2 separate regions of the Homo sapiens genome follow, and region 2 is linked to region 1. Evidence: fine-mapped expression QTL. A gene starts in region 1. The other region holds a variant in brackets. All regions are shown on one strand. Distances are between the middles of the regions. Region 1 holds the start of RALGAPA1 (Ral GTPase activating protein catalytic subunit alpha 1). Region 2 has its middle 73 kb from the start of LINC00609.

What was found.
Region 2: its variant is fine-mapped to the expression of RALGAPA1 in cerebellar hemisphere (GTEx, PIP 0.99).

The regions. Positions count from the first base shown.
Region 1 is chr14:35,807,189-35,812,573 of GRCh38, forward strand. RALGAPA1 (Ral GTPase activating protein catalytic subunit alpha 1) reads right to left here and starts at 2,107. Exons shown (of 42, transcript NM_001346249.2): 1 at 1,542-2,107. The coding sequence starts at 1,647. RefSeq lists enhancers at 1,757-2,317, 2,154-2,253 and a silencer at 1,834-2,073.
Region 2 is chr14:35,994,782-36,000,166 of GRCh38, forward strand. No RefSeq gene overlaps it. Among named protein-coding and RNA genes, the nearest start is that of LINC00609, 73 kb to the right of the region's middle. The variant A/G (reference allele first, on the strand shown) is at 2,335.

The DNA of each region.
Region 1 (5,385 bases):
AGGTGTCAAGCTCCATTAAGTGTTCAATTTCAAACTGCCATTACCTGTGAATCCCTCGCCTGCATTCACACATTAACTTACTGTGTCCTATTCTCGGCTAAATCTTTATTTCAATGGCTTAACTCTCAAGAAGAATGAAAACAAAAAGATCACAATCTCCACTATATTTAGAAGCTTTACATTTTCTTGAAAACTGAGCTTTTTATAGCGCTAAACTGGATTAACTGCTTTCTTACTACTCCACTGGAATAAATACAATTTACTTGTGACAAAGATTAGCTGTCATAAATGTAGAAAGAGTAAAAAAACAAACTAGAGACACAAAATCTGGGTTCCAATTCTGACTCAGCCTCCTGGTAGCTGGCTGACTACTCGATGTTCCCAAACTTCAGCTTTTTTGTTGGTAAAAAATGGAGAATAATATCATCTACCTATAGAGTTATTGCAAGGATTATCATAATTTACGTGAAATCACTGTAAACAGTAAAGCATCATAGAAATGTTGGGTAATATTGGTGGTATCCTGGTGGTATGAGTAAACAATAGACTAGAGAAACATGTACCTCAAATAAGGGACTTACTTTTTTCACTAAATAAACATCACTTTCCAAAACAAATACGCATCAGGAGGACAGCTCGAGATAAACTCTGAACTAGGATTCAGGCATCTGGATGAATGCATCTTCTTCAGCCAGTTCCACCATTAACTCTAAGTATCAACACAGGCGAAATAATTTTCCTTTTCATCTCAAATGTCTTCATCTAAAAAATCCAACTACTGGACCAGATGTTCCATAAGTATTATTACAGCCTTTATCAGCCTACCAAATGACTAAGTATTCAAAAGAGTCGATTAACATTATATTCAAAACTTAGAGCACTGTTTGGTCTACCAGCAAAACAGAACTTAAGGGCAGACGATAAAAAAAATATTTTTAATTAAAAATAGAATTATATACAATTCTCGAGAAGCAAAGGATGAGTTAAACTACCTATAATAGTTCTCCCTCTAAATGACTAGTGATGAACAAGGTGCATTAACAAAAGGGCGGGGCTCCTTCCCACAGCTTTTTGGGAACCGCCCACTTCCCAAAGAGGTGTAACTGCTACCTCCTTGTCTTCATCTGCCAAGAAACTTGAAAGATTAAGGTTTATATTGTCTGAGAGAGGATTTTATTTTTCTTTTTACTTGGGTGGGGTTGGCAGTAGTCATCTGGCAAACATATCCTATAAACACCATTATCCACAACGCCAGGTCTCCCCACAAAGTCTTAAAGATCTAAGTTTTTAGAGTAATACCAATTTTAAAAAATAAGTTCAGACTATTAACTCAAAATTAGATTACTGTGTTAACAGTAATCAGTGCTGCCAACTGCCAAGTTTTCGCTTCTCCGAATTATTCACCCTCCCGCGTCTCCGCAGAGGCTACGATTTGCCCTCTCCTGCACCGCGCCAGGTCCCGAGAGAGAGTCCGCAGGGGCTCCCAGGAGAGGGAAGGCCGGGCAACCCAGGCCTCGGCGCTGCCACCCCTCGCTCCTCACCGATGACGATGCGCAGGTGCTTGAGGCGAGTCAGTGCGTCCTTCTTGGTGTCTAGCACCTTCTGGGTGGACTTCTTCACGTCCCCGTGCGGCTTCTTGGAGAACATCCTGTCGCTGCCACTGCCACTGCCACTGCCACAGCCGGCTCCCAGCCGGGTCCCGGCGGCAGAAAGTGGAGGGAGTGGACGGGGAGGAGACTAGCCAGAGAGGCTCATTAGCTCCCCAGCCTTGCGGGCCAGGGCAGAGCCGACTCCTTCCCGATCCAGGCCAGGGCCGCCACCTCCACCCGCCTCGCGCCGCGGCTCCAAGGCACCTTCGGCCCCAGCTCCAATATGGCGGATCCCTCTCCCGGCCCTGCACGGAGCGAGGCAGACCCGGGCTGGCCGCCTGCCGCCGCCGCTCGTCTCCAGCGGCCGCCGCTCGCCGCCACAGGCCGGGGCCCCGGACCCAGAGCCACGAAGGTGGAGCTCTCGGCGGCAGGAGCACAACTCTCTCCCTGAGGCCCCCTTAAGGTTGAAGCTTCTTTAGCAGCTTACACCCTGCAGAGGCCGAAACGGAGACGAGTGTGGTAGTGATGGGGTTTCACGACTCTGCCGTCGGTGGCGAACGGTGTCCGTGGCAACCGCCTTCTGACGTCAAGAGTTCTTGACGTCATGCCAGCATGAGATCACCCGTGGCACTCCCCGCCTTGGTTTCCTGTGTAAGCAGCCAAAGGAGAATCTCAAGAAAGGCAAGGAAGGTAGTTACTGCGTGCTCCATTGTAAGCCAAATGATAGTAATAAGCAAAGAGAAGTAATCTTTATTAAATATGTCCATGATTTATCTTTGAAAATGTGCATAAGTTGTTGTGGCCACCAGATCCTCTAGCAGAAAGATAAACGAAGTTACAGTTGGGCAATTTATTCTGTCCTAAATCTATTACTAATAATATTTCCTGCACTATGTATGTGATTTCTTTCATATTTTTTCTATTTGCAATATCCCTGTTTTTTGCTGCAAACAACTTGACAACAGAAAGGCTTAAGCAGAGGTATCTAGGTTTTTTAAATAAAAGTAATCTTGCTTTCCTTTTCTATTGTGCTTTTAAAAATCTTTTCCCCATCTGCACCCCACATAAAGATGAATATATTGTCAGTTTTTCCTCTGCAAAGAAGAATTCAAGGTTCTTATTACATTGATGGAGTCATCTGAAGAATCTGCAATAGCTGAAAAAAATCCGTGAAATTCTGAATGACATAAATTGAAATTTTTATTGGAACCCTTTTTTTTTTTTTCCTTTTTCCTTTTCTTTCCAGACAGGGTCTCTGTGTCCCAGGCAGAAGTGCAGTGGTGTGATCTCAGCTCACTGAAGCCTCGAACTCCCAGGCTCAGGTGATGCTCCCACCTCAGCCTACCGAGTAGCTGGGACCACAGGTGCGCGCCACCACATCCAGCTAATTTTTGTGTTTTTTGTAGAGACGGGGTTTCGCCATTTTGCCCAAACTGGTCTAAAACTCCTAGACTCAAGTGATCCGCCCGCCTCAGCCTACCAAACTGCTGGGATTACAGGCGTGAGGCCACTGCGCCTGGCCAGGAACATTTCCTCCACAAAATAATTTGATAAAGAGTGAGTTTGCTTGTTTGAACTGTTTCCTTCTATGTTCTCACCCATAGCAATAGACTTGTCCAATGAAATATGTGATTAACATAGAAAAATAACAAAATCAGCAAAGAAGAGAGATGTAAGACATTTGCCAAAATTATGTTAAAATATAGTGCTTTGCTTAATGGTAGTTTGTTTCAACAACAATCCTATATTTTTTAAAGTACAAAAAATTTATTCAGTTTCTACATGTAGGGTTTGTTTGTATCATCAAACTTACAAGCCATACATGTTTTGAGGAAGCTTATAACATAATAGAAAAATAAGGGGATTGTTCAAGAGATTTTAGTTCTAGTTCCTCTCAGCATCAGTTTTCTTATTAATAAAATCAAAATAAGGTCTGTCCCTCACAGTTTCGTGAAATTTAGGCAATAATACAATGTTTTCAAGCATGATCTTTAGAATTACATAGACCTAAATTAGACATTCTGTTTTTCACTTGCAAGGACTTACTTGCTCTCGGGCCCTTGGCATGTAGTTCAGTCTCAGCCTGATTTTCCTCATTTGTAAACTACATCAGTGATTGTGATAATTAGGTGAGAAAAGTATTGAAAGTTACATCTATAATGACACATCTCATAACATTCCTTTCCTTCATAGAATTTAAATACAGTAATTTGTGTAACTGTTTACAGATTCTCTCTTTCATGAGACTGTAAACTCCCTGAGGACAGAGACTGTATAGATTGTCTAAAGTTGTATCCCAGTCTTCTTGCAAAGTGCTCTTTGCAAGATAGGCTCAATAAATCTGTGTCGAATAGAAGAACGAATGTCACTGTCCCTTCCTTTCTCTTGCGCAAGTACTCAGTAAATGTTTGGCAAATGAGTGACATAATTTTAGAGAATAAAAATGTAACATATCGTTAAAAATAATTATATGGCTGGTATACCTGAGAAAAAATGAAAACACCATTGCAAAACAAACTAGTATAATGTAATTTACATATGGCACACCCATCCCACTGCCTGGTTTTTCTCTTCCCATTGATTTAAATATTAAAATTCTTTGAAAGATAAGTCTTCCCCACAGCAGACATAATTATCATGGAAATAAAACCCAGAAATATACCTTTGAAATATTGCTTGTGAGGGCCAGGCACGGTGGCTCATGCCTGTAATCCCAGCACTTTGGGAGGCCGAGGCAGGCGGATCACAAGGTTAGGAGAGTTCAAGACCAGCCTGACCAACATGGTGAAACCCCGTCTCTACTAAAAATACAAAAAAATTAGCCAGGCGTGGTGGGGCACGCCTGTAATCCCAGCCACTCAGGAGACTGAGGCAGGAGAATTGCTTAAACCCAGGAGGCGGAGGTTGCAGTAAGCCAAGATTGCACCACTGAACTCCAGCCTGGTTGACAGAGTGAGACTCTGTCTCAAAAAAAAAAAAAAAAAAAAAAAAAAAAAAAAATATATATATATATATATATATATATATATTGCTTGTGAGAACTAGATTTTTTTTCTTTTAGTGACTGGGTCTTGCTCTGTCATCCAGGCTGGAATGCAGTGGTGCAGTCACAGCTCACTTTAGCCTTAACTTCCTGGACTCAAGCAATCCTCTCACCTCAGCCTCCCATGCAGTTGGTAACACAGGCAGGTGCCAAAAAGCCCAGCTAATTAAAAAAAAATTTAGTAGATGGCCAGGCGTGGTGGCTCACTCCTGTAATCCCAGCACTTTGGGAGGCCGAGGCAGGTGGATTACCTGAGGCCAGGATTTCAAGACCAGCCTGACCAATATGGAGAAACCCCTTCTCTATTAAAAATACAAAATTAGCCAGGAGTGGTGGCGCGTGCCCATAACCCCAGCTACTCGGGAGTCTGAGGCAGGAGAATCACTTGAACCTGGGAGGCGGAGGTTGCGGTGAACTGAGATCGTGCCATTGCACTCCAGCCTGGGCAACAAGAGCGAAACTCCATCTCACAAAAAAAAAAAAAAAAAAAAAAAAAAAAAATTTAGTAGAGACAAGGTCTCACTATTTTGCCCAGGCTGGTCTTTAACTCCTGGCCTCAAGGGATCCCCCTACCTCAGCCTCCCAAAGTGTTGGGGTTACAGATTACAGGCATGAACCACCACACCTGGCCTACACACAAATGTTTATAGCAATTTTATTCCTAACTCCAAAAACTAGAAGCAACCAAGATATCTTTCAGTAGTTAAATGAATAAACATACTGTGGTACATCCATACAATGGAATATTATTCA
Region 2 (5,385 bases), 190 kb after region 1:
AGGCACCATCTTGGAAGCAGAGAGCAGCCCTCACCAGACACTGAGTCGGCTGATGCCTTGATCTTGGACTTCCCAGACTCCAGAACTGTAAGGAATAAATTTATGCTGTTTATAAATTACCCAGCCTCAGATATTTTGTTATAGCAGCACAAATTGGACTAAGGCACTATGGTAAAACACATGGCAGAAACACTTTGGATTTATCCTGTAGGAGTTCACCTTGGGACTATGTTTATTTTCCTTTCAAGAAGTGTTTTTCCTGGCTGGGCGTGGTGGCTCATGCCTGTAATCCCAGCACTTTGGGAAGCCGAGGCAGGTGGATCACCTGAGGCCAGGAGTTTGAGACCAGCCTGGCCAACCTGATGAAACTCTGTCTCTACTAAAAATACAAAAATTAGCTGGGTGTGGTGGTACGCACCTGTAATCCCAGCTACACAGGAGTCTAAGGCAGGAGAATTGCTTGAACCCGGGAGGTAGAGGTTTCAGTGAGCTGAGATCATCCCACTGCACTCCAGCGATAGAGTGAGACTCAGTCTCAAAAAAATAAATAAATAAAATAAAATAAAAAAGTGTTTTTCCTTTTGAGAAAGGAGAGACTGTTTATGTATTACTTCAGGCATTGGGATGATGCCATCCTGGGATGCGAGAAACTCTGAGATGAAAGAACAAAATGGGTCAGGTGTGGTGTCTCACTCCAGTAATCCCAGCACTTTGGGAGGCTGAGGCGGGCAGATCACTCCAGGTCAGGAGTTCGAGACCAGCCTGGCCAACATGGTGAAACCCCATCTCTACAAAAAATACAAAAATTAGTTGGGTGTGGTGGCGTTTGCCTGCAGTTCCAGCTACTCAGGAGGGTGAGGCAGAAGAATCGCTTGAACCTGGGAGGCAGAGGTTGCTGTGAGCTGAGATTGCACCAGCCTGGGTGACAGAGCGAGACTCTGTCACACACACACACACACACACACACACACACACACACACACACACACACAAAATACAGGATGGTTTGAGACATGGGATATCGTTGGAGCTAACGAGAGAGAGTGTGATTAGAATACCTAGAGTACAACCAGAGAGTCACAAGAAGAGAAAAAAGAAAGGAAGATTTGGAAAAGTTAAAGATTCTGCTAGGAATTGTAGTGTAGCTGTGAGAAACTGAACAAGTTAGAGTAGACTTATCAGTAGATGTCTGGAGGAACCAAGTAGAATGATTTATTTTATATGCCTAAGAAAATGGCTGTAGAAAATAAATACAGGAAATAGGAGTCAGGATAGAATAGGGAGTCATCCTTCAAAGGATCCCCCAAGTCCACAAGTTACCAGAGAGAGCGATTTCATCTATTCTGATAGACATGCTGTTTTAGGATGAGAAATTCCCTTAGTGAATATGGCATGTAGTGAGCTATGAACAGCCAGATGGTAAAATTTTAATGTTTATATACTATTTACTTATTTACTCATGCTCTGTGGTTAAAGAGGCTCACATTCTCACTTACTTTTTGCTGTATGTTGCTTCTGTCTCTGTAATTCTTTGTGTGTTAAAATGCAACCTTTTTTCAAGATATCAGTGTCCTTGCCCCTCTAATAAGCTTCCCTAGCTCATAGGAAAGAAAGGGCAATCTTGTGGCTAGAGTTTTGTCTGATGCCATTGGAAAGTATAAACAACAGTTTGGGCAAAGTATTATGAGGAGTCTTTCAGTAACATCTAGTTTGCAGATTTAAATATAATAGGGAATTTTCTTTTTTAAATAAGATTCCCCCCAGCTCTATTAAGGTATAAATGACATGAAATTATATATATTTATTGTATACAATGTGATGTTTTCGTATATATATATGTTGTGAAATGATTAAATCAAGTTAATTAACACATACTTACATTTTTGTGGTAAGAACATTTAAGATCTACATTCTTAATTTTAAAGTTTGTATTATTATTAACTGCAGTCACCATACTGTACAAGAGATCTCCAAAACTTATTCATCCGACTTAACTAAAACTTTGTACCCTTTAACCAACATCTCTTCCCCACCCCCACCATCCCGGCCCTTTGCAACCACCATTCTACTCTCTGCTTCTATGACATTGACATTTTTAGATTCCACATATAAGTGAGATCACGCAGTATTTGTCTTGCTATGTCCAGCTCATTTCACTTATCATCGTGTCCTCCAGATTCATTATGATGTTGCAAATGGCAAGATTTTTTTTCCTTTTCAGGCTGAACCGTATTCCTATGTACATAAATGCCACATTTTCTTTATACATTCATCCTTTGATGGACTAGATTGATTGATTCCATATCCTGGCTATTGTGAATAATGCTGCAGTGA[A/G]CCTGGGAGTGCAGATATCTCTTTGACATAACTGATCTCATTTCCTTTGGATAAATACCCAGAAGTGGGATTGCTGGATCATATGGTGGTTCTATTTTTAACTTTTTGAGGACCCTCCAAACTGTTTTCTATAATGGCTGTACTGATTTTCATTCCCGCCAACAGTGAACAAGGGCCCCCTTTTCTCCATATCCTTGCTAACAATTGTTATCTTTCATCTTTTGAATAATAGCTATTCTAACAGGTGTGAGCTGATATCTCATTGTGGTTTAGATTTGCATTTCCCTGATGATTAGTGATGTTGATAATTTTTTCATAGACCTGTTGGTCATTTGTATGTCTTCTTTTGAGAAGTATCTGATCAGATCCTTTGCCCATTTTTTGATCAAGGTGTTTTTTTCCTTGCTACTGAGTTATTTGAATTCATTATGTATAATTACTTTGGATATTAACCCCTTATCAGATATATGGTTGGCAAATTTGCAACATGTAACAAGCCATACAGGGCAAGGTGGCATCATTGAGTAGTTCTAGGCAAGAATCTTCTGACTCCTTAGCCTGTGTCAGAGTGTGGTTCTAGGACCATCTGCATGAGAATAACCTGTTAGAAGATATATTACACGTGAAAAGCCTTCTTAAAAATGCAGATCCCTAGACCCCAGTCCTGCTGAGCAAAAATTCTTGGGAGTGAGTCTCAGTAATCTGAGTTTGCGAACTTTCCAGATGATAATAATCCACAATAAAATGTGCAGATCCCCACCTTAAGGGAAGGAAGAGGATACAGAATACCTTGCCCCCACTTCTTATTGCAGCCGGGTCTGCTGTGAATTCTCTCGGTTTTGGAGACCACATTTTAAATTCTTGCTATCAAAGCATGGTCCGTGGACCAGCAGCATCGGCATTACCTAGGCATCTGTTAGAAATGTAGCATCGCAGGCCCCATCCCAGACATACTGAATCAGAATCTGCAGTTTAACAAGATTGCCAGGTGATGTGCATGCGCAATTAAAGTCTGATGAGCACTGCCCCGCGTTACGCTAATGTCAAACAGCAGGGAAAGGATTGAGCTGGCAGGTGTAAGGGCTGGGCCCAATAGGTAACTCTCTTTTCCCTCATCTCCCAACCAACTGACAGACCGACCCAGGAATCAGATAGATGGATGATAACAACTTATTATTATTATTTTTTTTAACTGAGAAAGGTTGTATTGGAGAACATGACTTAGAGTCAAGTACAGTTATTAACTCTTCCCGGAATTGAATGTAACCTCCCAAATATCTGGCCTCTTTGGCAGCTCTGCCGCACTAAGCTCTCTACATGGCCGAGGCACCAGACCAGAATGCGCCCTTTCGACAGGCAGAGAGAGCCAAAGGGGAAAAGAGCTGAGTCAAGGCTGCCAAGTTCCTGCTTCCAGCCCTACCAGCCGGTCACTCGCGCCTTGCAATGAGGAAACCAGGAGTCCTATCTAGGTAAGTTGTTCCGCCTGGAAACTCGAGGCCCGAGGAATGGCTGCTCTTTCCTAACATCAGAGGTAAAAACTCTGAGAGCTTTTGTCCCTTTGGAGACCACGGTCACATTAGGCAGGCAGCTCAGCTGGCTTCAGAGTCACTGTGACATAGGGTCTCTGATAATGTCTTATGGAGTCTGGGTGAGTAGCCCCTCTGTCCTACCCAGCGACCTCTTTCCATAACATGCGGGGTCCACAGCTGGCAGGGCTGGAGGACCCCATGGAAATCCAGGTGGTGGCTGCATCTGCAGATGAACTTCGGAAGGCAGGAGCCAATTGGTGAGGTGTACGTTTTTGAGGACAGAGAGCTGCATTTCATCCCTTGCTAAGATCTTGTTACTTTAGAATCTTCCTTCAGTCCATGAAGAAGCTGCTTTTCTTCCAGGTGCAGGTTTCTCACCTCTATTACAAGAAAATGACTCTGAGTTCAGACTGATGGCCTTAATGCCTGATAGTGTGTTGTTAGTGATATGTAAAACCAGGCATTGAACCCCAGTGTGTCTAGCATTGTCTAATCATTTAATTGGCCATAATGATTTTATTATCTGGGTTGTAAAATGGGACAATTGGCAATTTTTTCCAAGTGCTTCCAGGTTGATTATATATGTAAAGGGGAGGAGGTATATAATATCTATACACCCAGTAACTGCTTTTTCAAATTACATTCATTCCTCTTTATTTTATTTGAAAGTGTATGGAGTTCAACATAGTTCAAGGAAAGCATTGTGGTAAACAGCCAGCTTAAATGTGAGCAGTGTAAAGAGCAGCAGCTTGCAGAAATATTGCTATAGATACTAAGGCCGCATCCTGCCTCGATACGGACCACACATAATTGAATCATGTTCAATAGAAGGCCATTACAAAACCGAACATATTTGCAATGCTAATGTGGGGAAGACAGCTGTCACAGGGAATTAAATATGATCATTCAGAGCTTGAATAAATGAGGTGTCCATTATCTTCTGGCTGTGTTGCAGGCTGCTTGAAGAACACAAATAAATGATACTGTTGCAGTAACCAGCCCATGGTTTTGTGTTTTAGTCATAGAAATATGAGAGAGATGGAGGTGCGTGGCGGGGAGGGAGACAGGGATATAGAAAAAGGCTTGGCAGATAAATATAGGCAAGAGTTTTATGCCCCTTCCCCCAAGAAACCGTGAATGCACAGACATAAAACTCTACTTTTGATGCCTGAAATAGATTTTAATTCTATTAAACATTTTTGTCAAGATTCATCCTTTCTAAGACTCAAATCACAGCCAACTCACAAAGGAGGCTGAATGTTGAAAGGGTAGAGTGGGGAGTAAACAAAGCTAATCCTTTTGTCCCTTCCCCAAGGCCTTCCTTCCCATCCAAATGGATAATAAAGATAACAGAGAACTTCTTCATGGATAATCAATCTGCCAATGAACATAAAAGGTACTTGGATCAGTGCTGGTTTTAAAAATGCCATTAATTATCCAATTAACAGAAAGGGAGGCTTCCTTTGATTGGATCTGAGGAAACTATCTACAAATCAGTTTTCTTATGTTAATAACAGATACT